5 linked regions of the Homo sapiens genome follow. The protein of the gene in region 3 purifies or fractionates together with the protein of the main gene of each other region. This does not show direct contact. Each region holds a gene or a part of one and is shown on either strand. Other genes may lie near its edges.

Evidence for each region.
Region 1: the proteins of RGPD1 (region 3) and NUP160 purify together in Homo sapiens (affinity purification with mass spectrometry; one large-scale study listed by BioGRID and IntAct). This does not show direct contact.
Region 2: the proteins of RGPD1 (region 3) and NUP85 purify together in Homo sapiens (affinity purification with mass spectrometry; one large-scale study listed by BioGRID and IntAct). This does not show direct contact.
Region 4: the proteins of RGPD1 (region 3) and KIFC1 purify together in Homo sapiens (affinity purification with mass spectrometry; one large-scale study listed by BioGRID and IntAct). This does not show direct contact.
Region 5: the proteins of RGPD1 (region 3) and NUP107 purify together in Homo sapiens (affinity purification with mass spectrometry; one large-scale study listed by BioGRID and IntAct). This does not show direct contact.

The regions. Positions count from the first base shown.
Region 1 is NC_000011.10:47,836,745-47,842,821, reverse strand, and holds part of NUP160 (nuclear pore complex protein Nup160), read left to right. Parts: intron 1-1,134; exon of another isoform or gene 1,135-1,578; intron 1,579-2,233; coding exon 2,234-2,444; coding exon of another isoform or gene 2,445-2,594; exon of another isoform or gene 2,595-2,756; coding exon 2,757-2,979; exon of another isoform or gene 2,980-3,321; intron 3,322-5,198; coding exon 5,199-5,277; intron 5,278-5,820; coding exon 5,821-5,935; intron 5,936-6,077. UniProt on the Homo sapiens protein: Functions as a component of the nuclear pore complex (NPC). Involved in poly(A)+ RNA transport.
Region 2 is NC_000017.11:75,217,673-75,223,749, forward strand, and holds part of NUP85 (nuclear pore complex protein Nup85), read left to right. Parts: intron 1-512; coding exon 513-634; intron 635-6,077. UniProt on the Homo sapiens protein: Essential component of the nuclear pore complex (NPC) that seems to be required for NPC assembly and maintenance. As part of the NPC Nup107-160 subcomplex plays a role in RNA export and in tethering NUP96/Nup98 and NUP153 to the nucleus.
Region 3 is NC_000002.12:87,009,877-87,015,633, reverse strand, and holds the end of RGPD1 (RANBP2-like and GRIP domain-containing protein 1), read right to left. Parts: intron 5,411-5,757; exon of another isoform or gene 3,122-5,410; coding exon 3,087-3,121; 3' UTR 1,658-3,086; downstream 1-1,657.
Region 4 is NC_000006.12:33,402,746-33,408,822, forward strand, and holds part of KIFC1 (kinesin-like protein KIFC1), read left to right. Parts: intron 1-568; coding exon 569-622; intron 623-739; coding exon 740-790; intron 791-983; coding exon 984-1,384; intron 1,385-2,106; coding exon 2,107-2,886; intron 2,887-3,450; coding exon 3,451-3,741; intron 3,742-3,846; coding exon 3,847-3,920; intron 3,921-4,054; coding exon 4,055-4,130; intron 4,131-6,077. UniProt on the Homo sapiens protein: Minus end-directed microtubule-dependent motor required for bipolar spindle formation. May contribute to movement of early endocytic vesicles. Regulates cilium formation and structure.
Region 5 is NC_000012.12:68,737,547-68,743,623, forward strand, and holds part of NUP107 (nuclear pore complex protein Nup107), read left to right. Parts: intron 1-4,266; coding exon 4,267-4,434; intron 4,435-4,808; coding exon 4,809-4,916; 3' UTR 4,917-6,077. UniProt on the Homo sapiens protein: Plays a role in the nuclear pore complex (NPC) assembly and/or maintenance. Required for the assembly of peripheral proteins into the NPC. May anchor NUP62 to the NPC. Involved in nephrogenesis.

The sequences.
Region 1 (6,077 bases), on a different chromosome or scaffold from region 3:
GATAGGGTTTTGCTGTGTTGCCCAGGCTGATCTCGTACTCCTGGGCTGAAGAAATCCTCCTGTCTTGGCCTCCCAAAATGCTGGGATCATAGGCATGAGCTATTGTACCTGGCCCTGATACTGAAATCATTAAGAATTATGGTGAGAGTAGTGTGGGAGAGAGTGACAGTGGGCCAGGAGCTAAAATCAACTGCAGTGAGCATGGGTAGCAGGTGGTATCTGATTCCATGAGCTTCAGAGCTGAGTGATTCGGGTAGCAGAGGAGGAACAGTGGCCTAGAATGCCAGTGGGGAACAAGGACATCTGTATGTTTTCCTTGAGGCCCCACCCCAAAGGGCATGGTAGAGAAAACTCTGGGGTCACTGTCCTCACGGGAGATCCAGGATCCAACTTTAACCGTAAGGCAGGAAAGCGAAGGAATTATTCAGAGATGAGGTTGAGGATCCAGAAAATTGTGCTGATGCCGTGAGTTACCAGAAGCAAAGTAGCTCTGGGAAATCATCAGCGCTGAAAAGGTACTTACATCCTTGGGAGTAGATAAGATGTGCCTTGGGAGAAAGTGTACAGTGAGAGAAGATGGTCCAGGATCAAGGTTTGAGGAAATCTAGCATATAGGGGTCAGGTCAAGGAGAAGGGGAAGAAATGGACAGGAATGTGGGAGGAAAACTGGGAGAGGGTAGTATCATAGGATTCATGAGAAGAGACTGTTTAAAAAGGAAGGCAAGGTCACATATGTGGAATGCTGCTAAGAGATCAAGTAAGAGGGCCAGGCATGGTGGCTAACACCTGTAATCATGTGGAATGCTGCTAAGAGTCAAGTAAGAGGGCCAGGTGTGGTGGCTCACACCTGTAATCCCAGCACTTTGGGAGGCCGAGGCAGGTAGCACTTTGGGAGGCTTGAGGCCAGGAGTTCAAGATCAGCCTGGCCAACATGGTGAAACCCCGTCTCTACTAAAAAATACAAAAATTAGCCAGGTGTGGTGGTGCACACCTGTAGTCCCAGCTGCTGAGGAGGTTGAGGTGGGAGGATTGCCTGAGCCCAGGAGTTCGAGGCTGTAGTGAGCTATGATTGCACCACTGCACCCCAGCCTGACAGAGTGAGACCCTGTCTCAAAAAAAAAACAAACAAACAAACAAAAATTATCAGATGGTACATGCTCCTTAGAGCCCTCAATCTCTCGAACTAGAGCACGTTCCAGGATCACATGGCCTTCCTTGTAACACTGGCTGTCTTCGGTGGCAAACTCGTAGATCCATCCCAGTTTGCTGCTGCAGTTTTTCAGCTCACATGTTGGACCATGTGGTGGCCAGTGAGCATGACCCAATCTAGAGCTTCATTGTACTGCAGGTTCACTACCTTGTTAAAAAGAAATGCTCTGCCAGTGGCGCCTGTGAACCAAGTGGAGATGAATTCTGAGCGGTTGGTCAGGATTGTATCACAGTTTGCATAAGAAAATGGACAGGTACCACGAATATGATCAAGGAAAATTCTGCCCATTTTTATGGCTGAAGTTCTAAAAACCCTGTGCAGCAGTGAGATCTGTGGCTGCCAGTGGCTCCTTGCTCCTCAGCTGGGATTAATAAACAAGCTCCTTTTGGGGAGGGTGGGGGAAAAAAGAAAAAAATAAATAAACAAGCTCCTTTTGAGGAGTAATAATGAAAGTTAGAATAGCTTAGTATAGAAACTAACCCTGATATGTTCAATTTGCGAAGGTATTTTTATATTAAAATATTTATTTTTGTAATATTTTTGCACATACATGTAAGCGCATGTATAAAATTGCTATTCTGTGTGTGTGTGTGTATATGTGTGCGCATGCATGCTATTGCAGGTTAAGAAGTAATAGAAACAGGAAATAACCGCAATTATTAAGGTCAGTTTTGTTTGATGCTGTAGTATATATGGAGGCCACATTCCACTACAAGCAATGGCCGGGGTATGGTGTTAATTTTTATTATAGTAGAGTTAATTGCATAAAATATTGTCCTAAATAAATGGCCTATCAAGTTTGGAAATGTCTCTATGTAACAGAATCACAGTGAAATTTGGATTTTGTTATGCTGTTTTTTATAAATGTACATAATGTGATTTGGCATGCAAAAGTGGTCCAAATCTGTTTATCCAAAATTTTCAAATTTGGTGAGTTCACTTGGACACTGTTCTCATATATTTCAGTAGAACAGTCAGTGAGAAAAGCATAAACTTTTCAAACAAATGTCTCTTTTTCAACAGGAAGACCTCTGGAGATACATTGGAGCTGATGGAGGAGTCACTGGACATAAATCTGTTGAATAATGCCATTCGCCTAAAATTCCAAAATTGCAGTGTTTTACCTGGAGGGGTTTATGTCTCTGAGACTCAGAATCGTGTGATAATCTTGATGTTAACCAATCAAACAGTGCACAGGTTACTTTTACCACACCCCTCCCGGATGTATAGGAGTGTAAGTTGGCTAAGTGCAATATCTTTTATTTCCCAAATTACTCTGGGTGTCACAAATGTAGTGCTGGAGCGATGTCTTTTGGAATTGAAGGAAATTTGGATTCTCGTTATCCCTCACCAAGCATACTTTGATAGCTACCGCTTAAAATGATCAGGCATACATTTTAAGTTGAGAATTAGTTTTCATTAAGAAGAATAGCTTTCTTAAACTTGACAGTTTTTTACTTTAAAAACTTTTTTAGCAATAGAGAGGAACTGAGCAAAATTCTGGTTATTTTGATTTAATAGATTTTTCTTTTTAATTACTCAACAGGAGTTGGTAGTTGACAGTCAGATGCAGTCAATATTCACTGACATTGGAAAAGTTGATTTCACAGATCCTTGCAACTATCAGTTAATTCCAGCAGTACCTGGAATATCTCCTAATTCCACCGCCTCTACAGCCTGGCTCAGCAGTGATGGGGAGGCCCTGTTTGCCTTACCATGTGCTTCTGGGGGAATCTTTGTTCTTAAGCTACCTCCTTATGACATACCTGGTAAGAATGGGAACTGAGCATGGATTTAACTTTAAACAAGGAATGTTAACATTGAAACAGTTCAACCTCGTCATCCAATGCAGGGATTGCATCTCTACTGCCCCGGAACTGGTCATTCATTATTGCTTGCCTAATGAGTCCCTAATGCTTTACTTTTATACAGTGGATAAGGAACTATAAAGCATATTGGAGCACGGAAAAACAAATAGACAAGTATAAGACAGCCTATTCTAAATCTTGTAGTAGAGATGGGTTGCCTAATTGTCTGCCCTGAGATGGAGGCATTATAACATTATAATTAAATTAATTGAAACAAAGACATTAAATACCCTGCACCAAGTTGCCACTGTGTCTTGCCTGGATTATTGTATTAGCTTTCTATATATCTCCCCAGATCTGTCTTAACCCTCTTCAGACACTTCTCAGGTGGACTGATATATTTAAAACCCAAGGGCCAGGCGCTGTGGCTCACGTCTATAATCCCAGCACTGTGGGAGGCCAAGGCAGGTGGGTCACCTGAGGTTGGGAGTTGGAGATCAACCTGACCAACATGGAGAAACCCCGTCTCTACTAAAAATACAAAATTAGCTGGGCATGGTGGCCCATGCCTGTAATCCCAGCTACTCGGGAGGCTGAGGCAAGAGAATCGCTTGAACCCAAGAGGTGGAGGTTGCGATAAGCCAAGATCGTGCCATTGCACTCCAGCCTGGGCAACAAGAGCGAAACTCCATCTCAAAAAGAAAAACCCAAGTTGGGTCATGTCACTGCACTGTGTAAAGCCGTCCTTTATGTAGTGCAGTGACATGACACAACTTTTCTTTTATTCTTTTTTTTTTTTTGAGATGGGATTTCTCTCTGTCGCCCAGGCTGGAGTACAGTGGCATGATCTCAGCTCACTGCAATCTCCACCTCCTGGGTTCAAGCGATTCTCCTGCATCAGTCTCCTGAGCAGCTGGGATTACAGGCATTTGCCACCATACCCAGCTAATTTTTGTATTTTTAGTAGAGACAGGGTTTCACCATGTTAGCCAGGCTGGTCTCGAACTCCTGACCTTGTGATCTGCCCACCTCAGCCTCCCAAAGTGTTGGGATTACAGGCTTGAGCCACCGCACCTGGCCTTTCTTTCTTTCTTTTGAGACAGAGTCTCACTGTCACCCAGGCTGGAATGCAGTGGTGCCATCTTGGCTCACTGCAACCTCCGCCCCCCCCAGGTTCAAGTGATTCTCATGTCTCAGCCTCCCAAGTAGCTGGAATTACAGGTGTCCACCACCACACCTGGCTAATTTTTGAATTTTTAGTAGAGATGGGGTTTTGCCACATTGACTAGGCTGGTCTCGAACTCCTGACCTCAAGTGATCCGCCTGCCTCAGCTTCCCAAAGTGCTGGGATTACAGGTGTGAGCCACGGCACCTGGCCAACATGACCCAAGGTGGGATTCAAATATATCATGTTATGCTGAATAAACCCAGAGTCCTTACACTGGCCTAGAGTGACCCACTGCTGTCTCCAACTTCATCTGTTCACTCTTCCCCTCTTCACCAGCCACATGCCTTCTTGTAATTCCTTGAATATGCCAGGAACACCCCTACTTCAACAAGGCATTTGTTTGGTATTGTCAGCTACTAGCTTGGCTCATTCCCTCAGCTCCTTTAGGTCTTTACTCAATGTCACCTTGTTGAGGCCTTCCCTGACCATCCTTTTCAAAATTGCAGTGCCCCTGCCTGCCCTCCCTATATCCTGGCACTCTCTGTACTCCTTTTGTGTCTTATTTTTCTGACTTACTACCATTCTACTTAATTTAACTGTCTCTGCTTCTCCCCTTCCCCCAAAGGAATATAAGTTCCAGGAGGACAGGAGTTTTAAAATTTGTTTTGTTTACTGCTATGTCACTACCATCTAGAACTGTGCCTGGCACATGAAAGGTACCTAGTGATTGTTTTAGAAAGAATGAAGTGATTCTGCCGGGTGGCAATATGGGTTACTGTCTGTAAAAGGCAAAAATTTCCATGAGAAGTATAAAAATGCTATTTTTATGGATCTAATAATGATTCAAAATATTTTAGGTGTGATATATGCAGGAAAGTTACATCCTAAACCTTTGTTAGTACAGAAATACGGAAGTCTGTTGCCTATTATAAAGACCTTGTTCATGGTTACATCATTCTTGCCTTTGGGTTTCTCTAAGTGTGTTCAAGAGGTGCCTTGGATATCATTGCAGGTATGGTGTCAGTCGTGGAACTGAAACAGAGTTCAGTAATGCAACGATTGCTTACAGGCTGGATGCCAACAGCTATCAGGTGAGTGGTGTCTGGCAGGTAAATCAAAGGGCCCAAGAATTTAATCTTTTTGCACTGGTCGGCAGTTATTGTTTCCAGTCTTATTCCAAGGCAAACATTATACTGGAAAGGAGAACAGTCAGAATAACATTAAATTCCATCTGAGGAAAGCCACACTCCCGAGTCCCTTTCATCTGCAATTGGATGCCTTGTCAGCATAAATCGGCCTGTTTATATTCTCACAATATCCAGTTCAGTGCTCTGCCCCGACTTACCCAAATCCAGTTTCGTGTAAAATTATTAGAAATAGAAAGTTTTTGATGGTTACAGGAAAACAATATAAAAGGAAACAGTCTTCCATTGTTATGTAGAGCCTTTTAAATTTTATTATAGTAATTGGCGATAAACCAAATAGAAATGTAGTTGTCTTATACCAGCATATAAGCTCTTGGTCCTTCTGCTAAGAGTGTACATTTATAATTTTATTATATTTCTTGAATTGCAAATTCTAATGATCAGATTCTTTGCAGCAGTAAAACTCTAAAACTGGGTCTTATGTTTTAGGGGTGACCAGTCGCCTTCAGATCGTCCCCTCAGTCTTGCTGTTCATTGTGTGGAGCATGATGCCTTCATCTTTGCTTTGTGTCAGGATCATAAACTACGAATGTGGTCTTACAAGGTAAGTGCTACATTTATAGTTGCTGTAAGTTAAAACAGGATTGTGAATCATGAGAATTGAAGTAAATTTTGCTGTTTCTCTAAAGATTATTAGATCAATTGGTTTGGAACTTATTGGTCACTGCCAGATTCAGACAGTTTCA
Region 2 (6,077 bases), on a different chromosome or scaffold from region 3:
ATTTTTGTATTTTTAGTAGAGACAGGGTTTCACCATGTTGTCCAGGCTGGTCTTGAACTCCTGAGCTTAGATGATCCACCTGCCTTAGCCTCCGAAAGTGCTGGGATTCCAGGTGTGCACCACCAGCCCCCTGGCCCTATGTTTTTATCATCATTGCATACCTGGCTGCTTGCTATCTAGTCATTGTTGGTTCCTAAACGGCCATTACTTATGTAGCTATTAAGTATTTGTGAAGAATCTGGAGTGTGGGGTAGTGAGGTCTGCATTCCATGTTCACCCCTTTCTGGGGTCAGTTAAAGATGGAGCTGCCTGGCACAGAAGTAATATTTGGTGAAAGTGCATTTGCTTTTTCCTAGCACAGTCTGTCATTCAGGACCATGTGTGTGACTGCTTAAAAGGGATAAACCTATGTAGTCAGCTTGTCTGCCTTAAAGTTCTCTGTTCCTTGGATAAAGGAACTTGCTGCAGATGAAGCTGAGGCTTTTGTGTGTGATGAGAGTCTCTCCTCCCAGCTGGCCCTCTCCTCCTCCATCTCCTTGACTGGGTCCGGCTCCATGTGTGCGAGGTGGACAGTTTGTCGGCAGATGTTCTGGGCAGTGAGAATCCAAGCAAACATGACAGCTTCTGGAACTTGGTAAGACAGGCCGGGCCCCCACCTCCCACCATGTGTCCTACTGTCCCTGGTGCTGCCGGGTGGGTCTGAGGACACCCACTGAGCCTCCAGCAGTAGGCTGGCTTTTGGAGTCTGTTACTATGGAGACTCTTTTGGATCTTTTCTTCCCTGCTCTATGGGAGAGTCTAAAACCGAGGTACCATGTAAGAAAAATAATGCTTTGAAGACTTTTCCAGGGTAAAAGGAAATTTGATTTCTTTGTGGATCTAAGGAAGAGAAGACACAAAAAGGAATACAAAACCGTTTTTTTTTTTTTTTTTTTGAGACAGGGTCTCGGCTGGGTGCGGTGGCTCATGCCTGTAATTCCAGCCAGCACTTTGGGAGGCCAAGTCAGGAATCTCTTGAGCCCAGGAGTTTGAGATTAGCCTGGGCAACAAAGTGAGACCCTCCATCTCAAAACAAATTAATAAATAAAAATATAAAAGAGAAAAGATAGTCCGACTCTGTTCCCCAGGCTGTTGTGCAGTGGCCTGATCTTGCTCACTGCAACCTCCGCCTCCTGTGCGGTCCTACCACCTCAGCCTCTCAAGTAGCTGGGACCACAAGTGCCAACCACCATGCCTGGGTAATGATATAAAACCAATTGACAGGGGCTGGGGTGCATACAGGGTTGGATGTAAATGAGCTTGCACATTACTTTGGATCATCAGTTTCGAAGTCAGCATGTCGTATATGTGTATATGGATGTATTTTCTATGTGTTAGGTATTTCCATTCACCTCTGCTGACTGACCCAATTGGGAGGTGGCAGGGAGGAGATCGCTAGTTGACTGGGCTAATGGAAAGTCAACTAAACTTATAAAGCCTGAAATTGGGAACAGATTGTGAGGACAAAAAAAAAGAAAAGAAAAGAAAACCTGGAATTCGGCCCGGCACGGTGGCTCACAGGAAGTAGTGGGCCAAATGTTTGAGTCTCTGATTGATTCGCTAAGGTTTGTTGTTGTCGTTTAGAGACAGGGTTTCGCTTTGCGGCCTGGGCGGGAGTGCAGTGATGCGATCATGGCACAATGCACCTTTGATTTCCTGGGCTCAAGCAATCCTCCCACCTCAGCCTCCTGAGTGGCTGGGACTACAGGCGCACACCACTACGCCTGGCTAGTTTTATTTTTTGTAGAGGTGAGGTTTCACTGTATTACCCAGGCTGGTCTTGAACTCCTGGGCTCAAGCAATCCTTCCACCTTGGCCTCCCAAAGTGTTGGAACTGCAAGTGTGAGCCACCATTCCTGGTCATTCACTGAGTATTTATTGAGTCCCTACTATTTGCAAGGCACCAAGGAGACACCATGACTAAAACAGGCAAAGATTCCTGCCTTTATGGAGTTTATATCCTGTGTGTGGAGAAAGAACAGCAACACATAGGCTAGTACCATGTATCCTGGCACATAGTGAAATGCTCTGCCAAGGTGCCAAGAAGGGAGGGAGGCTGCAAGTGCTGGAGGGGCATCGAAGAAGGCCTCCCTCATGAGAGATTGGAGGTGAGACCTGAAGGAGGTGAGGAGAGCTAGGCTGAAGAAAGCATTCCAGATAGCAGGGCCTGTAGATGCTGTGTTCTAGAGCCAGGGTGGGGCAGGAGGGGCTGTGCTATGTAGGGGTAGGTGGGAGGGATGAGCTGGGGAGATAAAGACAGAGCGATACCAGGCCAGGTCTGAGACAGCCCCCTGGGCTGTCACTGAGACTTTAGCTTTTTGCAGCCTACATAGCAGGGTGACTAACAACATGGTCTGTGGTGCCACACTGCCTGGGTTAGCATTCCAGCTCTGCCTTTTACTAGCTGTGAGGTGGGTTTTTTTCCTTTTTTGAGACAGAGTCTCTCTCTGTCACCTAGGCTGGAGTGCAGTGGCGCCATCTCAGCTCACTGCGACCTCTGCCTCCGGGGTTCAAGTGATTCTTCTGCCTCAGCCTCCTGAGTAGCTGGGACTACAGGCGCGCGTCACCATGCCCAGCTAATTTTTGTATTTTTAGTAGGGATGGGGTTTTACCATATTGGCCAGGCTGGTCTCAAACTCCTGACCTTGTGATTCACCCACCTTGGCCTCCCAAAGTGCTGGGATTACCAGCATGAGCCACCATGCCTGGCCTTTTTTTTTTTTTTTAAATACAGTTTCACTGTGTTCCCCAGGCTGCAGTGCACAATCACCAGTCACTGTAGCCTTGGCCTCCAGGTCTCCAGTGGTCCTCCTACTTTAGCCTCCCAAGTAGCTGGGACCACAGACATGTGTTACCACCACCAGCTAAAGTTTTTATTTATTTATTTATTTTTTGAGATGGCGTCTTTCTCTGTTGCCCAGGCTGGAGTGCAGTGGCGCTATCTCAGTTCACTGCAACCTCTGCCTCCCTGGTTCAAGCAGTTCTGTCTCAGTCTACCAAGTAGCTGGGATTATAGGTATACGCCATGATGCCCAGCTGGTTTTTGTTTTGTTTTGTTTTGTTTTTTGTATTTTTAGTAGAGATGGGGTTTCATCATGTTGGTCAGGCTGGTCTTGAACTCCTGACCTCAAGTGATTTGCCTGCCTCCCTCCATCCCACCATCCCAATTTTTTTTTTTTTTTTTTTTTTAGCTGGAGTCTCGCTCTATTGCCCAGGCTGGAGTGCAGTGGCACGATCTCGGCTCGCTGCAAGCTCCGCCTCCCGGGTTCATGCCATTCTCCTGCCTCAGCCTCCCGAGTAGCTGGGACCACGGGCGCCTGCCACCACGCCTGGCTAATTTTTTAATTTTGTTTAGTAGAGACGGGATTTCACCATGTTAGCCAGGATGGTCTCGATCTGACCTTGTGATCTGCCTGCCTTGGCCTCCCAAAGTGGTGGGTTTACAGGCGTGAGCCGCCACGCCCGGCTAACCCAATTATTTTTTATTTTTATTTATTTATTTTTTGAGGCAGAGTCTCACTCTGTTGCCCAGGCCAGAGTGCAGTGGGGCGATCTCAGCTGGGATTATAGGCTCTCGCCATCCTGCCTGGCTCATTTTTTTATTTTTAGTAGAGATGGGGTTTTGCTGTTTTGGCCAGGCTGGTCTCGAACTCCTGACCTCAAGTGATCCGCCTGCCTCAGCCTCCCAAAGTGCTGGGATTACAGGCTTGAGCCACCATGCCCAGCCAAATTTTTTTATTTTTTGAACTCCTGGCCTCAAGCAGTCCTGTTGCCTTGGCCTCCCAAAGTATTGGGATTACAGGTGTGAGCCACTGTGCCCGGTCACTAGGTGTGAGATCTTGAGTGAGCTACTTAACGGCCTTAAGGGTCCTCATCTGTCCAGTGGAGATAATAATACCTGTCCCATGGGGCTGTTGTGATCATTAAATTAGTTAAAGGACATAAATGTGGGTGAAGTAGTTGACACGGTTGATGCACAGTAAAAGCTAGTCTTTTACTTCTAAGCCATATGGGGTGAGGGGGCATTGGAGAGCTGAGCAGAGGAAGCCTGAGATCTTACTTAGGTTCCCAAAGGCTGTCCTGGCTGCCATGTTGAGACTACAGCAAGGATGGAAACAGGCCAGTCTGGATTCTGCTGTACTAAGCCAGGTAAAAGATGGTGGTGGTGTAGGCTAGATATGTTTGAAGAGAGTTGATGGGGTTTGCTGATGGATTGATTTGATGTGGGCATGCAAGAAATAGAAGAATGTGGGAGGATAAGGTTGGTGAATTGGAGGCAAACTGGTATTTAATTTTAGACATGTTTCTCTCGTGTGTGTGTGTGTTTTGTTTTGTTTGTTTGTTTGTTTGTTTTGAGACAAAGTCTCTGTTGCCCATGTTGGAGTGCAGTGGTCAGATTACAGCTCACTGCAGCCTTGACCGCCTAAGCTCAGGTGATCCTCCCCTCCTAAGCCTCCCAAGTAGCCAGGACTACAAAGGCGTGCCACCATGTCCAACTAATTTTTGTATTTGTAGTGGAGACGGGGTTTTGCCATGTTGTCCAGGCTGGTCTCAAACTCCTGGGCCCAAGCAATCCACCCTCCTTGGCTTCCCAAAGTGTTGGGATTACAGGCGTGAGGCACCATGCCTGTCCGACATGTTACGTTTTAAGATGCCTATTCAAGATCTAAGTGGAGATGTTGACTAGGCACTTGGATATACAAAGCTGGAATTCAGACAAGGAAGTTTGGGCTAGAGAGGAAAAGTTGGGAGTTATCAGTATGTATATGTTTATATATTTGTGATTTTTTTTTTTTTTTTTTTTTTTTTTTTTGAGATAGAGTTTTGCTCTTGTTGCCCAGGCTGGAGTGCAGTGCCTTGAATACTGAATTAGTGAATATTGAACCATTGCTCCTAGGGGAAATACAGGGTTAGGTTCCTGCAAGCCTCTGGTCATATTTTGTTCAACCAATCAATATATAACCGATCACTTGTTTTATGTGTGTATCTGTTTGGAGACAACTTACTTGACATAATATTGTTGAATCATTAACAGTGAAGTCAGCCAGGCGCAGTGGCTCACGCCTGTAATCCCAGCACTTTGGGAGGCCGAGGCGGGCGGATCATGAAGTCAGGAGATCAAGACCATCCTGGCTAACACAGTGAAACCCCGTCTCTACTAAAAATACAAAAAATTAGCCAGGCATGGTGGCAGGCGCCTGTAGTCCCAGCTACTCGGGAGGCTGAGGCAGGAGAATGGCGTGAACCTGGGAAGTGGAGCTTGCAGTGAGCCGAGATCGCGCCACTGCACTCCAGCCTGGGCGACAGCAAGACTCTGTCTCAAAAAAAAAAAAAAAAAAAAAACTCAGGGCCAACAGCACTATAATTCGTGTCTGAATGAAGCTTATCTAACACCTCCCATAGTTCTTGCACTTAGCAACACTAGAAAGCACTTCAGTACTACACGTGGGGACCCAAGAAAATGTACAAAAATGAAAAAAATGTGGCACTAACTGCATCACGAGAAAGCCTTGTTTAGTGTGTGTCAAGCAACTCAATATTCTTGCCACTCTTAATTTTGATTTGAAAGTACCACAAATACTGATTTGGGGGTTACAGATAAATTTTAGTGAGTAGGCAGATTCACAGATAAAGACTGAACAGTGAAGACTATTTGCATTGAGTGTATATTTTATGTTATGTTATGTTATTTTTGAGATGGAGTCTCACTCTGTCACCCAGGCTGGGGTGCAGTGGCGTGATCTTGGCTCACTGCAACCTCTGCCTCCCGGGTTCAAATGATTCTTGTTCCTCAGCCTCCCGAGTAGCTGGGACTACAGGCATGCACCATCACGCCCGGCTAATTTTTGTATTTTTAGTAGAAACAGGGTTTCACCATGTTGACCAGGCTGGTCTTGAACTCCTGACCTCAGGTGATCCACCCGTCTCGGCCTCCCAAAGTGCTGGAATTACAGACGTGAGCCACCACGCCTGGCCTGAGTGTATTTATTTTACATATTTATATTTGAACTGAAACTTTTATGAACCATTTTATTTAA
Region 3 (5,757 bases):
TTAAGCGTATGAATATTTGAAGAGATGTATGACACTTTAAAAACTGTTTCCTCTACTGTGTTGGTGGCCAGGTATTAAGACTGTTAATAATAACAATTTAGCTCTCCAAATATCCTGCATCACAGGTGTTAAAGAGGACTGGAAACACCTTAGTTCTTGTATTCTTGAGGATGATTTGCCATATTGTGTCTAGTATCACGGCAAAACTCCAAGTAGCATTTTAAATAGTATTTATTTGGGTTGGAATTATTTCTATGCATTGACTCATCTTCCTGGGTTTCATTAGCTGTACGCATTGTACTTTCTTCCTTACCACTATTTATCTCGAATTCTTGAGATTAAAGTACAGATGAAATCTAAACTTTATCTGGTAAAGTTATTAGTTCTTACAAGTAGCAAGCAAACGGTAAACTAAATAGGATGACCTAATTGTACCAGATTTAAAAACAAAAACAAAAAACCCTGATTCTCCTGATTCTCTCTACAAAATGCTAACATTTAAATATGTCATTTGTAAATTGTTAACCAGAAGGAACATGGGAATGACTGTAGGTTGAGTTTGAAGTGTGAAGTTTGAAGGCTTAGTTTGCTTGTTTTCAAAGTGACAGAAGGGAGCAAAAGGTTATATAAACTCCGGTGGGTACATACAGTTGCTGTGGGATATTGACCTGCTGCTAACTTACCTGCCAGGGTTTTGCCAGGAACAGTCAGTGTTAGATCACGTTTACTTCTGCCACTTGCCACCAGCCACACTGCCTTCACCGAGTCCAAGACCCTATCACCACTGGTTGGGGCTACTTGTAGCTGTACACCTGATCTCGAAGAAATATAACTTCCCTGTTTAAAGCCCTTCCTAGTGCCCTTAAAATAAGACCCAAAGACTTCCCAAATGTGCCAGGGCCCGGCATTATTTACGTAACCCCCGGCTGCTGTTTGCTTGGCTTGCTAAACTTTTCTACAAAGTTTCTGGCCTTACTTCTGTTCCTTCACCACCCCAAGCACACGCCCTCCTGCCTGGGACCCTCTTCACCTTTGTCCTGCTGTGCCAGCTCCTTCTTATCGCCTAGGTGTCAGCTCAATCATCACCTCCTTTGCAAATCTTCCTTGACCCCTAGACCTCCCTTTCACAAAGTACCTTGAGTTTACACTTTGATGAGTGTCTTATGTCTACTGTAATACTATGTCCCAATGAAGATGTACTGGCAATCATAATACGTAGTATTGGGTTAAAAGCATTAGTTTGCTGTAGGTACGTTAGGAGTACTCCCCATGTGATTGATCAGTGAATTTAAAAATGGCTAAAGTGGGTAACCTTAAATGATGGTGCAAATATACCTTAAACATTTTATATTTTCATTGAAAACACAAGTGTACTTGACACCTCTTGATGTAGAGCAGAGGCTTTTTTTCTTCGAATATGGGGTCACCAGTAGAAGGTCTCTGGTGCATTTCCTGCATAAACTATGCTCTAGTGCAACATCTACAATAATTACTTTCCTTATTTTTGAAGTGGACCATATCTCGACATTTATTAATCAATCTGCATGTGTAAAACCTTTAGATTTTTATGAATTCCTCCTCAAGCTTTATAGTCAACTATATGAGTGGATTGCCCTCTGTGGATCTGATAGCAATTTTTTAAATGATTCACGTTTCAACTTGTTAAAAACATTTAATTTAGTTAAAAACCAAACAAAAAAGAGCTTTGTTTCTTTTCACATTCATTTCTCAGTTTAGATCATCTTTAATTAAATATAAATGTAAGAAAGTTGGAAAATGCAAAGAAACGACTCGTTGTAAGCACATAACTCACGTGGGGGGAACAGACATGGGTGGGCACACTAGCAAACACCTGCCAGCTGCATGTGGACCCAGGTGGGCACCGGACTGTTTTAAACACAGGAGAGGGCCCATTGTCTAACTGGTGAGTTGGTTGAGTGGAAGCTGGTTGAGAACTTTTACTGCAAACCATTTACAGTAGACCACAATTTTATAGTCCTGTTTGGCACTTTTTCATATCACTGGGAGCCTGAAGAAATAGAAGTGGGTTGGATCTCTTTCAGCCTCGGAAAAGCCTGCCATTCCCCCATCTAAAAACCCTTTCCCCATTCTCTTACTCTGTCTCATCATGTATGTAACATGTATCCATGTATCATCAAGTGATCTCATTTTATATTGTTTACTTGAATATTTCCTGTAACCCCCCTGTCTGATTCCACTAGAATGTGAGCTCTATGATGGCCAAGCCTCTGGCTGCACTGTGCCCCGTGTGTCCCCAGCATCCTGGTGGGGCTCAATACACAGAGAGCTCATAAGTAGCATTTGAATACATGAATCAAAGTATGGAATGGCCCAGTTTACTGCAGCCTTTTTGCAGGTGCAAAAGATGATCTTTTAGAAAGCAGAAACAGGGGGTCTGGTGCATGAGATCTTTTTCTCAATGTGACTGTGCTGTGCAGACCTTCACGTGGTGTCTTGTGAAAGACTTTGACCACTGTGTGGACTTTCCTTCAGTGTATCTTTCAGAGTGCAAGACTGGGAATGGAAAGAACTACAGAGGGACGATGTCCAAAACAAAAAATGGCATCACCTGTCAAAAATGGAGTTCCACTTCTCCCCGCAAACCTAGGTCAGACTTTTCCTTTCATCTTTGTGTTCATCTACTGTAAAGTGTCCGTCTGTGTCTGTGAGGGATTGGTTCCAGGACCCCTGTGGCTACCAAAATCCATGCTTCTCAAGTCCCTTATGTAAAATGGTGCAGTATTTGCATATAACCTACATACCTTCTCTTGTGCAATCCCTAATATAATGTAAATGCTATGTAATCGTTGTTATACTGTATTGTTTTTATTTGTATTATGTTTTATTGTCATATTGTTATTTTCTCTCATCTTTTTCAAGTCTTTTCCATCCACAGTTGGTTGAATTTGTGGATGTGGAACCCATGGATACAGAGGGCCAACTGTATTTAGGATAATTTCATCACTTTTAATTCAAACCAGAATATGTGAATAAGCAGACAGAAAGAATCTTTTTGATGTCGATGTTCAACTATTTTTGGCACCATAGTAGAACATGGTTGCTTTCTATTTTTTCTTGGGTATGGAGGTTTCTTGAAGACCTAGAACATAGAAGAATGCCTAGTTAAAAAAAAAAATCAATGAAACTACGAGTTTTAGGCCAAATCTGAGAAAAGACCAAAGATGACTATGTTTGGGACTGAAGTAAACATATCAAGTTAGAACTCTCATCACATGTTTGACTCAAATTGTGGAGCAAAATAGTAAATAAAATATAAAAATGAAAATGAAGATACGTGAAATTCAAATGTCACAACTTGCCTATTATTTATTTTAGTGCATTTTTTTGTGCTTTTCCCAGTTTGGTGTTAGGTGGCCTTAAGTTCTCAGTAATGACACTTATCAAATAGGAACTTAGTGTTACTCACCTTTATCCATTCCCCCAACACTCAACAAATTGCCTTTGCTATATCCCTATGAGATGAGCAGATCAAATATTCCCCGTGAGTTAATGAAAACTGATTCAACCAAATGGCGAAGTCAGAGACTATCGGGGGCCATGGAGACACTCTGGGCCATTTTTATGAGGTAGTCTAGGCTCATCTTCATGAGGGAACTGAGGTCTTGGGGGGTGGGGGTTACCCAAATAGGTTCACAGAAGAACCAGAAATAAAACCTGCCTTTCTAGACTGTAAGTCTTGTGATTGTCATCTAAATGGTTGTCTCTATACAGCAACTCATCTCTAGAACTGAAAATAAGTTTAAATCCCTCCTCCATCCCCAATAATTCAAGCTGCATTTCAGAGAAAACCAGGACTTTGGAATCAGACAGATCAACTTTGACTTCTTGATCTGCTTCTTCATAGCTATTTATGCTTAGGCAAGTTTTGTTTTGTTTTGTTTTACGTTGCCACTCAGTCTTCTCATCTGTAAAACAGGGATAATAACACCTTCCTCAAATGGTTTTTTTTATTAGGACTAAAAGAGAGAATGTGTGGAAAGATGTTAGTGGAATTCCTGGCACATAGTTCACATGGACAAAATGGTGTTAACTACGAAAATTTTTACAGAGAAAAGGGCAACTGACAAAAGCAGGTGTTTGGAATGAATTAAGACCATGGCAGGCTTTTGAGGCCTTTATATTTCTCCTGACTGTGCAATAAAAATATTTTGGCTCTCTGTCTAAGACTTGGCTGTCACAGTAGCAATGGTAATATTAGCTACTGTGCCAGAAGCAGCCTATCAATAGAGAAATTGAAAATCTGACCACACAAATGCTGCAGCACCCAGCTGAAATGCATTTGGATGACAATCTCAGATGGGAATCGAGAGCATCTCCTTCTGCCTTGCTAATAGCAAGCTGATTTTTAGAATATAGTCTAAGTGCTTCTCTTCCATCCTCCCCAGATTCTCACCTGCTACACACCCCTCAGAGGGACTGGAGGAATCCAGACAACGATGCGCAGGGGCCCTGGTGCTATACTACTGATCCAGAACAGAGAGATGACTACTGCGACATTCCTGAGTGTGAAGGGCAGGAGTGGCTCTAGAAAATGTTTTCATTTCTGCCCTTCACCTGTAAAATAATTTGTTGTAAAGCCCCTTCCCACAGGGATATTATTAATAATTGCGTAACGTGTTCACCTCTCGGAAAGGAGCAAAACTTTGCTCAGATCCCAGAATTAACCTGATTTTTTTTTTTTTTCTGAGACAGAATTTTGCTCTCATTGCCCAGGCTAGAGTGCAATGGTGCGATCTCAGCTCACCACAACCTCCGCCTCCGGGTTCAAGCGATTCTCCTACCTCAGCCTCCCAAGTAGCTGGAATTACATGCATGTGCCACCATGCCTGGCTAATTTTACATTTTTAGTAGAGACAGGGTTTCTCCATGTTGGTCAGGCTGGTCTTGAACTCTCGACCTCAGGTGAGCCGCCCGCCTCAGCCTCCCAAAGTGCTGGGATTACAGGCATGAGCCACCATGCCCAGCAGACCTGAATTATTATTATTAAAATGTTACATCAACATGTACAAATATAAAACTACATCTAAACTCTAAGTACAGACTTCTTATGCTTAAAACTCTTACACAGTGTTAACCCCAAGACAGATTTGCAATTAAGTAGTTAAAATAAGACAACAAAGTCAATAAAAATCAAATAAACAATATACATTTAATGTGGTAGACTTTGCTGTTTTGCTGAAGCTAAGCAAGGAACCAGTTTTTAAATCAGCAATCCGTTATTTTAATGGACTGAGCAATTTAATAGTGCACCTCAAAGGTCAATGATAAAAACTAAAAAAAAAAAATACCTACTGAAAAAACTGTCATCGTTTCACATTTCTGGCTACGTTAGTGCAAAAGGGAATAAATAAAGGTGAGATTTGTGTGACAGTGTGGATATGGTACTGTGTGACAACTCAGTTCTCCCATCACTTCCACCTGTTTGAATCATCGGGATCCTTTATTTGTACACCATGTTATCGGTATTTGCCCTTAAGCACCACCAATGCACCACTTTTATATTAAGTCTGCCCGTTTTCCTTAGTACTCCATAAAATTTAAGTCACATATTACTCTGCCTCACCATGTTACTTCAATAATTCTGAATCAAAGTTTAAGTTTGTGAATAATTTTGCAAAAAAAGAGCCAATCATGCTTCTCAACAACATAAAAAGAGAAGCGCCGTCACTTCAGGTGAATATTGTTCTCCGTGAGGCCATGAGCATAAACAAAAAC
Region 4 (6,077 bases), on a different chromosome or scaffold from region 3:
TGGAGGCCAAGGCAGGCAGATCACCAGAGGTCAGGAGTTTGAGGCCAGCCTAATCAACATGGTGAAACCCCGTCTTTACTAAAAATACAAAATTAGTTGGGCGTGGTGGCGCATACCTATAATCCCAGCTACTCGGGAGGCTGAGGCGGGAGAATCGCTTGAACCCTGGAGGTAGAGTTTGCTGTGAGCTGAGATCATGCCATTGCACTTCAGCCTGGACAACAAGTGAAACTCTGTCTCAGTCAATCAATAAATAAAGTATATGGGAGCGTGTGCATAGACTATATTTAATACTATATACCTATTTATGTAAGGGACTTGGGCATCCTTGGATTTTGGTATTCTTGGGGGGTGCTGGAATCAACCCCTTTTGGATACTGAGGGATGACTGTAATTTCTGGTTCTAGGGGAGGTATCATTAGGAGCTGGCCAGACTTAGGGATAAGGGAAGGAAGTTATCCTATTTCTAATTCTGAGAAAAGCACTTCTTCTGCCCCTGTCCTAGCAAGTGTACATGCCATCTTAAGAATGATCATTCTACCTTTGCTCTCTCCCATCTCCTGGGCAGCTCAAAAAGTTTCCAAGAAGACAGGACCCCGGTGTTCCACAGCTATTGCCACAGGTAACTGTGCTCAAGAGCTGGGTCTGAGAAGGGATTTGGGGTATGTGTAAAGGGAGAATGATGGAGGTGGAGGGACACTGGTCCTGTAATTCCTAAGTCACCTCCTCAATTCTGTAGGGTTGAAGAACCAGAAGCCAGTTCCTGCTGTTCCTGTCCAGAAGTCTGGCAGTAAGTGACAAACATAACCACTGGGTGAGAGGCTGGGATAGGGAAGAGAAGATGGTGAGTGACCAGAAAAATCCATTTGGTCTCTAAGGGGAAGGAGATGTAGCATCAGGTGTGGATCCCATAAAGGCTAGAAGGGAGGAGGGATAGAGAGCCTAGACTTCACTGACCTTTGTCCTTTCTGTGTTCATCTTAGCATCAGGTGTTCCTCCCATGGCAGGAGGGAAGAAACCCAGCAAACGTCCAGCCTGGGACTTAAAGGGTCAGTTATGTGACCTAAATGCAGAACTAAAACGGTGCCGTGAGAGGACTCAAACGTTGGACCAAGAGAACCAGCAGCTTCAGGACCAGCTCAGAGATGCCCAGCAGCAGGTCAAGGCCCTGGGGACAGAGCGCACAACACTGGAGGGGCATTTAGCCAAGGTACAGGCCCAGGCTGAGCAGGGCCAACAGGAGCTGAAGAACTTGCGTGCTTGTGTCCTGGAGCTGGAAGAGCGGCTGAGCACGCAGGAGGGCTTGGTGCAAGAGCTTCAGAAAAAACAGGTGGAATTGCAGGAAGAACGGAGGGGACTGATGTCCCAACTAGAGGAGAAGGAGGTAAGGGCCAGATTTTCACCAGATGTCAGCCCCGCTTTCCTGGCAGAGGTCATGCCTCCCCTCCCTTCCAGGTACCCCTCAAGTCTGGGCTGAGAACTCCTGAGCACCTATCTTTAGCAGTATAGGTGCTGCTGAAGATACCTCTCTCTTGACCTGTCTGCACCCCAGCCCACTCCTGACTGTCTTGCTTTCTGCCACGCTTCTTCCTACCCTTGACTGTTTGCAAAGCTCTCATTTAGATCTGTGTCTTTCTTAGTCCTCCATCCCTCTTTCTTTGGGTTCCCATCCTGATCACAAATTCCTGTGGTACTCTCTTTCCCTCCTCCCATGTCCACTTGACTCCTTCCTGGTGAGCACCAACTAGATTAAGTTATTTGCAGTCTCTTAAATGACTCAACTTTCACTTCTGGGCATTCTGCATATGTGCTTCCCTCTTTCTGGAATGTTCTTTGTATACTACATCCTTCCTTGGTTCACTCCTGTACTTCTGGGTGTCACCCTAGATATCATCTTCCTTGTGCTCCTCTTTGTGCTTGGACATACCCATAGCACTCCCTGTCTTAGTACCATGATTCCTTATTTTCTCATCTTTCTTTGTTTACCAGACTTTGAGGTCCTTTTGAGCAGGGACCTCACTTCCACCCACTCCATACGCCCCACAGTTTGTTCTTCTTCTTGGTTGCATCTTACCCTCTGTGTATGTTGTGTTCTCTTCTGGGCAGAGGAGGCTGCAGACATCAGAAGCAGCCCTGTCAAGCAGCCAAGCAGAGGTGGCATCTCTGCGGCAGGAGACTGTGGCCCAGGCAGCCTTACTGACTGAGCGGGAAGAACGTCTTCATGGGCTAGAAATGGAGCGCCGGCGACTGCACAACCAGCTGCAGGAACTCAAGGGCAACATCCGTGTATTCTGCCGGGTCCGCCCTGTCCTGCCGGGGGAGCCCACTCCACCCCCTGGCCTCCTCCTGTTTCCCTCTGGCCCTGGTGGGCCCTCTGATCCTCCAACCCGCCTTAGCCTCTCCCGGTCTGACGAGCGGCGTGGGACCCTGAGTGGGGCACCAGCTCCCCCAACTCGCCATGATTTTTCCTTTGACCGGGTATTCCCACCAGGAAGTGGACAGGATGAAGTGTTTGAAGAGATTGCCATGCTTGTCCAGTCAGCCCTGGATGGCTATCCAGTATGCATCTTTGCCTATGGCCAGACAGGCAGTGGCAAGACCTTCACAATGGAGGGTGGGCCTGGGGGAGACCCCCAGTTGGAGGGGCTGATCCCTCGGGCCCTGCGGCACCTCTTCTCTGTGGCTCAGGAGCTGAGTGGTCAGGGCTGGACCTACAGCTTTGTAGCAAGCTACGTAGAGATCTACAATGAGACTGTCCGGGACCTGCTGGCCACTGGAACCCGGAAGGGTCAAGGGGGCGAGTGTGAGATTCGCCGTGCAGGGCCAGGGAGTGAGGAGCTCACTGTCACCAATGCTCGATATGTCCCTGTCTCCTGTGAGAAAGAAGTGAGGACCCATGGGCACTGGAACTGGGAAATGGGGAGGAGTGGGCAGGGTGCCACGAGATGGAGGTAGAGGGAGAAAGGAGCAAGAGAGAATTGAAGGATGAAGTGCAAGTTATCAGGCTGGGTTACCACATCCGGTTTTGGCCTGTGGGCTGTCGGTAGATCTGCCTTAACCTGGGAGTGGCGAGGGAGTGATGCATCTGCCAAAACGAGGAGGGTCACTACATCTCATGTCTCATCTTCTTGCTCAGCTCATCCTAGCCATGCTGGCCTCCTGGCTGTTCCTCAACCAGCTAGTCGTGCTCCCCATCTCAGGGCCTTTGCCTGGATGCTCTTTCCTGGAGATCTTGGCTATCCTGTCAAAACTTGTGTTCCCCACCCCGCCTTTATACACTCCCTATTCTATGTATTCCTTACCATTTTCAGACATACTGTGCATCTTATTTTGTTTCTTGACAGGCTAGAAAGCTTCAAGAGGGTGGGGGTGGGCTCTTATTCATTTCCATACATATTACTATGTACTGACTTCTGCCTGCCTTTTTGCCCCTTCTGCTCCCATCCCCAGGTGGACGCCCTGCTTCATCTGGCCCGCCAGAATCGGGCTGTGGCCCGCACAGCCCAGAATGAACGGTCATCACGCAGCCACAGTGTATTCCAGCTACAGATTTCTGGGGAGCACTCCAGCCGAGGCCTGCAGTGTGGGGCCCCCCTCAGTCTTGTGGACCTGGCCGGGAGTGAGCGACTTGACCCCGGCTTAGCCCTCGGCCCCGGGGAGCGGGAACGCCTTCGGGAAACACAGGCCATTAACAGCAGCCTGTCCACGCTGGGGCTGGTTATCATGGCCCTGAGCAACAAGGTGGGAATGGGAGTGGGGTGAGATACGGGACCTGGGGGACAGTTGGGGTTGGCTGTGCAGAACCCTGCCTATTCCTAAACATCTGTCCCCACCTCAATCATCTAGGAGTCCCACGTGCCTTACCGGAACAGCAAACTGACCTACCTGCTGCAGAACTCTCTGGGTGGTAGTGCTAAGATGTGAGTGAAAGGGACAGATGGAAGGGGTCAGGTAGGAACTGTGTTGGGGTGAGGGGTAGAAAGGGGAACAGTGGAGACCTGTCCAGGCTCTGCTGGCCCCTAATGCTGGGGTTGGGCACATTGTCTTTTCATAGGCTCATGTTTGTGAACATTTCTCCACTGGAAGAGAACGTCTCCGAGTCCCTCAACTCTCTACGCTTTGCCTCCAAGGTGCGATTACCACCCGTCAGCCTTGTCAGGACCCGTGGGTGGTTGTAGGCTTCTCCATTCCAATCCCTTTTGTCTTCTAGGGCAGGGAGCACATTTGTGCAGAAAGGTTTTGCAGGTATCTGAGGCACTGCTCACCTGGTTCCATTTTTAATTATTAGCTTTTGAGTTAAGTTTTTTAAAAAACGGGTGATTAATTTAACCTGAGAAAGCTGATTAAAAAAAAAAGAAAAGGTGACTAAAAGGTCTAAACTGGTTGGGCGTAGTAGCTCATGCCTATAATCCGAACACTTCGGGAGGCCAAGGCAGGAGGATTGCTTGAGCCCAGGAGTTTAAAATCAGTCTGGGCAACATAGTGAGACCCTGTCTCTACAAAAAATAGGAAAATTAGCTGGGTGTAATGGCTCACACCTGTAGTTCCAGCTACTCAGGAGGCTGAGGTGGGAGGATCACCTGAACCTGGGAGGTGGAGGCTGCAGTGAGCCGTGATCCTACCACTGCACTTCAGCCTGGGTGACAGAGTAAGACCTTGTCTCAAAAAACCAACACACAAAAAATCCCTAAGATTCCTCCCTATCAGCATACAGAGATCATTATTTTTAGGTCTGCCTAGACTCCACTATGTAGCTGCACCAAAATTTATCCACCAGTTCCCTCTACTGGACACTTGGATTGTTTCCACACTTTTTTAGTCACAAACAAGGCCACGTTGACTAACTTTGTACATACATCATTTTGTATTTTTCAGTTACATCTAACTAGGGAAATAGTCCTTGAAATGGGATTACTGGATCAAAGACTTAGAGGTTTTTCAGACTATTCCAAATAGTGTGAATTCAGACTCCAAACCTCATGAGGGTCAGCCAGTGGCTATATGAATTCTCACTAATGAGAATTCCTTCCACTAGAATCTCCTTCCACTAGTGTTAAGCAAGTCAGAAAGTTTCCTTACTGTCTGCCTCCACAGTAATTTTTTTCTCTGGTACACCCTCCTCCTGCGCGTATAGCCCTTTGATGGGCTCTGGCTTTATTTGAGGTCTGATCAGGTCTGTCCTGCTGTGCGCTTGGGCCTCCTCCCAGTCAGCACTGATTGTTGCTGTGGAGTAGCCAGCACCTGCACCCTGATCTGGTATTCTACTTTGATGAGGGTTTCCCTCACTATCTTGCAAGTTCAATTTTAGAGGGTGGTGATGTTTTTTCTAACTTTTTATTAATGTTATACCAATGTAACATCCAACAACATGAACTTTAATATCCTCTAATACCCAGTTTATGTTAAATTTCACCCAACTGTCTCAGAAGTGTCTTTTATACATAATAGGTTTGTTCAAATCAGGATCCAGGCAAGGGCCACCCACTTGGTTGAAATGTCTCAAGTTCCACAACCCTATCCCACACTGCCACTATTATGTCGTTTGTTGAAGGTCATTTGTCCTATAGAATATACTATTCTGGATTTTGGCTGGTTGCTTCCTCTTTCCCCCATACTTTCACTTATTTATCATATTTGGGTGTTGTCAACCTGACCCATCCATTTACAAGCTCCTTATTGACTTTTTCACCTAGTGATTTTATCCAGCAGTGACCATACCTGGATCTTTATTTCATTAAGGGGTTTCTAAATGGGGATTTTTCTAATCTTAGTTGTTCTGCATTGGTTAGTCACGATTCTTTTATGAAGACATTTGCCTTGCCATCTACTTGGTTTCTCTGAAATTCAATTCATACAGGAAAAACAAGATAAATGCTGAATTATTTATTGATTTTCAGTATTGAGTTGATATCCTAGCAGCTTCCAAAGGTGACCAATGAATGTTTATCTGAGGGTTATTTTTATTTTTATTTTTTTTGAGACAGGGACTTGCTCTGTTGCCCAGACTGGAATTCAGTGGCTCAATCATAGCTCATTGTAGCCACCAAAAGTGTTGGGATTATAGGCGTGAGCCACCC
Region 5 (6,077 bases), on a different chromosome or scaffold from region 3:
TGAGACCCTGTCTCAAAAAAAAAAAAAAAAAAAAAATGGAGTTGAGATGGAAGGCAATGAATGATACACCATTTTGTTTCATCAGGGATTTTAAAATCAATATTCAGTCTCAATTATTTCTTTAAAACTTCAGTCTCAATTATTTCTTTAAAACTAATCCAGAAAAGAGATTTCTTGAACAGTTAAATGATTAATAACATTTTAATCACCTTTGTTGAGCCTAATACTCTTACATAGTCAATGACGTAGGGCATTGTTCAAGGCCCCTGCTAACACGTGTCACTTGTATGTGAATTAGAAAATTGTAATTCTATCTGGGAACGGTGGCTCATCCCTATAATCCCAGCACTTTTGGGAGGCCGAGGAGGGCAGATCACGTGAGGCCAGGAATTCGAGACCAGCCTGGCCAATATGGTGAAACTCCGTCTCTACTAAAAATACAAAAAATTGGCCGGGCACGGTGGCTCACGCCTGAATCCCAGCACTTTGGGAGGCCAAGGCTGGTGGATCAGAAGATCAGGAGATCAAGATCATCCTGGCCAATATGGTGAAACCCTGTCTCTACTAAAAATACAGAAAACTAGCCAGGCATGGTGGCACGTGCCTGTAGTCCCAGCTACTTGGGAGGCTGAGGCAGAAGAATCACTTGAACCTGGGAGGCGGAGGTTGCAGTGAGCCGAGATTGCGCCACTGCACTCCAGCCTGGCAACAGAGCGAGACTCTGTCTCAAAAATAAAAATAAAAATACAAAAAATTAGCCGGGTGTGGTGGCTCGCGCCTGTAATCCCAGCTACTAGGGAGGTGGAGGCAGGAGAATCGATTGAACCCAGGGAGGCGGAGGTTTCAGTGAGCCAAGATTGCGCCACTGCACTCCAGCCTGGGCAACAAAGGGAGACTCCGTCTCAAAAAAAAAAAAAAAAAATTGGAATTCCCTTCCCTTACATAGATAGGTTCCATGGCAAGTGCACACAATATGTAAGACAGAACACAGGCTAGATTTCAGCCCCACTTACTTGCTTGGCCAGCCACCCTTGTACAAGGCACGGCTGTACACAATAGCCCTAGCATTATGTGCTGTTTTCGTATAGCTACCCCTCAAGTTTTTAAATAACTGGAATAGTCCCCTTAGTGTTGGGGCTGGTGGCACAGAGGAATGGCAGAGAGAATGGAGCAGGCAGGTCATCTTTACCTACCTTTCACTACCTCTACCTCTAGCACATTCTAGTCCAAGCCTCTACTGTCTTCCGTGGCTTCTCACTGTTCTTTATACAATCGTTCCTTATACAGATGGACTAGTGACCCTTTCAGAATAAAATACATGCGACTGTCTTACCCAGAACTTTCTGATGCCTTCTTATTGCACTTGGAATAAAATCTTTCTTTTCTTGATGTACAAGAGTATACATACTTTTGTTTTGTTCTTTTTTTTTTAAACTAACCCCCTAATCTTGTGTCCTACTGCTCTCCCATCACTATATCCTGGCATTCTGGGCCTCTTCATTGGTTCCCCTCTGCCTAGAATGCTCCTTCGCCAAGATAGGTGCATGGATGACTTTGTACTTCTTTCAGCAGCTGCTCAAATGTCATCTCTTTCAAGAACCTCTCCCCAACCCAACCACCCTATTTAAAATAGCATGTATGCATGTGTATACACACACACACACCTGTCCCTTTTAATCTCCATATCCTACATTAGTTTTCTTCATAGCACTTAGCACAATCTGATATAAAACATATTAATTTATTTGCTTTTTGTATGTCTACCCTCATTAGAATATAACCTTCATGAAGGGAGTAACCTTGTTTTCTTTATTTCTTTGACTCTGGCACTTAAAATAATGCTGAGCACATGGGAGGCTTTCAGTGGTACTTAGTAAATGAATGATACTGCATTACTGAGGTGAATGTACTGTCTTCAGATTAGGAATAGCTGTAATATCAGTTCCAATCAACTCTTGCTATCAACACATATTAGGTAATGAGTTTTTCTCACATGTAAGGCACTACATGGGGGGGCGCGGTGGCTCACGCCTGTAATCCCAGCACTTTGGGAGGCTGAGGTGGGCAGATCACGAGGTCAGGAGATCGAGACCATCCTGGCTAACACAGTAAAACCCCATCTCTACTAAAAATACAAAAAATTAGCCGGGTGTGGTGGCGGGCACCTGTAGTCCCAGCTACTCGGGAGGCTGAGGCAGGAGAATCGCGTGAACCCGGCAGGCGGAGCTTGCAGTGAGCTGAGATCGCGCCACTGCACTCCAGCCTGGGCGACAGAGCGAGACTCCGTCTCAAAAAAAAAAAAAAAAGTGGAAATATCCCTAGTGGAAATAATCCGTCTGTTTTACATATTTACCGGCTATTTCAAAGCTTTTGTTCATTCAGATGAGAAAAATGTCTTCAGTTGTAGCAGAGCTGTTTATTTGCTTTTCCTTGTAGCAATTTGCTGGGTCTGTCAGCCATTACCCTGGATAGTTGCTGGCAGCCCGCCCGCTAGTATCGGAATTCATTATAATTAGCAGAAGAGATTGTCTGCAGCACACTCTGATATTATGGCAGCAAAAGGATTTAGTAAAAGCAAGTCTGGGTCCATCCTGTGAGATAAGAAAGTAACCTGCTGCTTTTCGGGCAACAAGGAGTCAGAAGCCAGGGGCACCCGGCCTCTTTAACATAGACAGAAAGACTACATTGGAGCACAAATGGAAAGGTCCAGAAAGAAGCAGTTCTCTTATTCTTACTGGGTTCTAGGTTGGGATCACTAATATGAATTACAAGTAAAACCTTGAAGCATTTTAAATCCACCTCTGAAGGTAGCAAGTATCTATTTGAGAAAAGAAATAAAGGTGCTTCCCTTGTAAAGAAGCACTTTAATATTTGCTTTTATGTATTTATGCTTCAAACAAGACCAAAATATTGATAGTAATTTTTCCTATGTTTGGAAACCTGACCTAGATTAGCCCAAATTAGTACAATTACTCCTTGGTATAATTACCAGATTATACTTTGTTGTTGATTAACCCCTCCACTTACATGTCCATTTGAAAAATGTTTTAGCAATTTAATATAGCCTCTCACATGAAGATACTTTTAGGTATTCCATTAGGCTTTTCAAAGGAGCAGTTATTATTTTAGCTTGTCCTGTTTTTTTTTTCTACACTATTAGTGCTATTGATTTCCTTCCTATTTTTAAGATTATTTCAGAAATTGTAGTGTGTAATTTCTGTAATCCCAGCACTTTGGGAGGCTGAGGCAGGAGGATCACTTGAGCCCAAGAGTTCGATACTAGCTTGGGCAACATAGGGAGACCTCATCTCTACAAATAATAAAATTATTTTTTTTTTTAAATAGAAAAATTAGCCGGGCATGGTGGCACATGCCTGTGGTTCTTAGCTACTTGGGAGGCTGAGGTAGGAGGATTGCTTGAGCCCGGAGATCAAGGCTTCAGAGAGCCATGATTGTACCACTGCATTCCAGACTGGGCGACAGAGTGAGATGCTGTCTCAGAAAAGAAGAAAAAGGTTAAAAAAGAAAAGAAAAAAAAAAGAAATTATGTGGTTGGTTACTTTCTAATTATTTTAATTTTCAAATTTTTTGTAAGTAAATGTAGTGGGCATAAGAGGTTTACTCTTTTTTCTGTACTTTTACTGTTCACATCGATTTTAAGAAAGATCCATGTATGTATAAAGGAATGCCAATTGTTTTTTCTGCTTGTTTTCCTTATATATCTGTTCTGACTCATTAATTGTATTATTCAAATCTATAGGTTCTGTTTTTCTGTTTTTAAAAATTATATAAAGAAATTATAAATTCCATTTTCCATGTGTATAAGCAAAGTAGTCTGCAATGAAGTTGACCCTCCCTGTGTGCCCCTCCCCACATCGTCTTTTTCCCAGCAACAGTCATTGCTGTCAGTCTGTTGTGTCCTCTCAGGCCTCCTTAGAGCTATCTTTATTTATATGTATAAACATCCAAAGGAGTGGTGATTGTTTTCTGTTCTGATTTTTGCTCTAATGATATTCAGTTTCCAACTCATTCTTTTTATGCATGTTTTTATTCAGGACATAGTAAGTTTATTAGAAATACAAATGCAGAAGCATTTTATTTTCACTGTCATACCTCTCTGTAGTCTACGTTGTTCATCTTCATACTTTTTTGCTGTTAAATCTTGTCTACCAATTACATTCTGGGTTTGATTCAGTACCTGGCTTTTCTTTTTGTAAGGATCTTTAGCTTAAATTGTTAAAATGATTTATTGATGTCTGTTTGTAGGATGCCAAAGAAGACCATGAAAGAACACATCAAATGGTCTTACTGAGAAAGCTTTGTCTGCCAATGTTGTGTTTTCTGCTTCATACGATATTGCACAGTACTGGTCAGTATCAGGAATGCCTACAGTTAGCAGATATGGTATCCTCTGAGCGCCACAAACTGTACCTGGTAAGTTCTAGAGCCTTGTAGTTTTAAATTTTAATGATTTGATATGCTCTGTAGTAATATTAATTTTGTGAAGATGTGTTTACATTTGTAATTGCTCTTGGATTTTCTTAAAGTAATAGTCCAGTTTTAATGTTTTAATGTTTGTACTTTTTTCCCAAAATGTGTGTATATTTGTAAGCAGTTAGAAATATATAGACTGACTCTGAGAATTCACCTTGAAATTCCTGAACCACTCTAATTTACTAGGCTCTGGCTACATAAATCTTAAAGAGGCATTTCTTCTTATATGAAGCTAATCAGATCGATTAGGTAACTAAGTTCATACTTGTCTACTTGTCTTTGTTCTCATTCTTATTTCTCTTTTTAAAAATCAGGTATTTTCTAAGGAAGAGCTAAGGAAGTTGCTGCAGAAGCTCAGAGAGTCCTCTCTAATGCTCCTAGACCAGGGACTTGACCCATTAGGGTATGAAATTCAGTTATAGTTTAATCTTTGTAATCTCACTAATTTTCATGATAAATGAAGTTTTTAATAAAATATACTTGTTATTAGTAATTTTTTCTTTTGCATTACCATGTAAAATTTAGACATTTGAATTTTGTACTTTTCAGAATATTATCGTGACACTTTCAACATGTAGGGATATCAGCGTTTCTCTGTGTGCTTGTTAATAAAACTATATAAAAATTAAAATTTTCTGTTTTTACAAATTCCAGGGTTGTCTCTTTTTCATGTAATAAGAAAATTAAATTTTCTGTTCTAGTTTTTTCTGTAATCATAAGCATTCTGATATTTTAAAATCATAAAGATGATGGAAAGTAGATTTATTTTTAAGCCAGGTACGTAATTTTTTATTTATCATAAAATTTAGTATTTTTGAATATTAAAATTAAGAAGATGACTATAACAAGAATTTTTCTAACATAACATGCTATTATTATTTTAGTTATTTTGAAGACATTTCTAGTTTAACTTTCATTTAGCAAACTTCCTATCAAAATAAGAGCATATAAAGACTTAGCGTAGTACCTGGCACACAGTAAGCACTGAATATATTGGAGATTACAGATCCCGCTCTTCTAATAGGGGAAATACCATAAGTACATTTAAAAGGTGTCATTTAAAAATACAAGTAGTGGCTGGGTGCAGTGGCTCACGTCTGTAACCCCAGCACTTCGGGAGGCCGAGGCAGGTGGATCACCTGTCGTCAGGAGTTTGAGACCAGCCTGGCCAACATGGTGAAACCCTGTCTCTACTAAAAAAATACAAAAATTAGCCGGGCATGGTGGCAGGTGCCTGTAATCCCAGCTACTCAGGGGAGGCTGAGGCATGAGAATCTCTTGAACCTGGAAGGCAGAGGTTGCAGTGAGCCGAGATCACGCCACTGCACTCCAGCCTTGGGGACAGAGCGAGACACTGTCTCCAAAAAAAGAAAGAATTACAAGTAGTCTGAGCAGGAAGAACCTCTCTCCAGCTGAAAAGACTCTCAGGAAGTAGTATTGGTTTGGGGTTTGAGTAATGCACTGAATTTGCAAAGGCAAAGAGTGACACAAGAAGGATGAGGCTCTATAGATTAAGAAATCAGTATGAGCAAGAAATGATAAATGCTGGGCATTATTATGAACCAACAAATACACCAAATAGG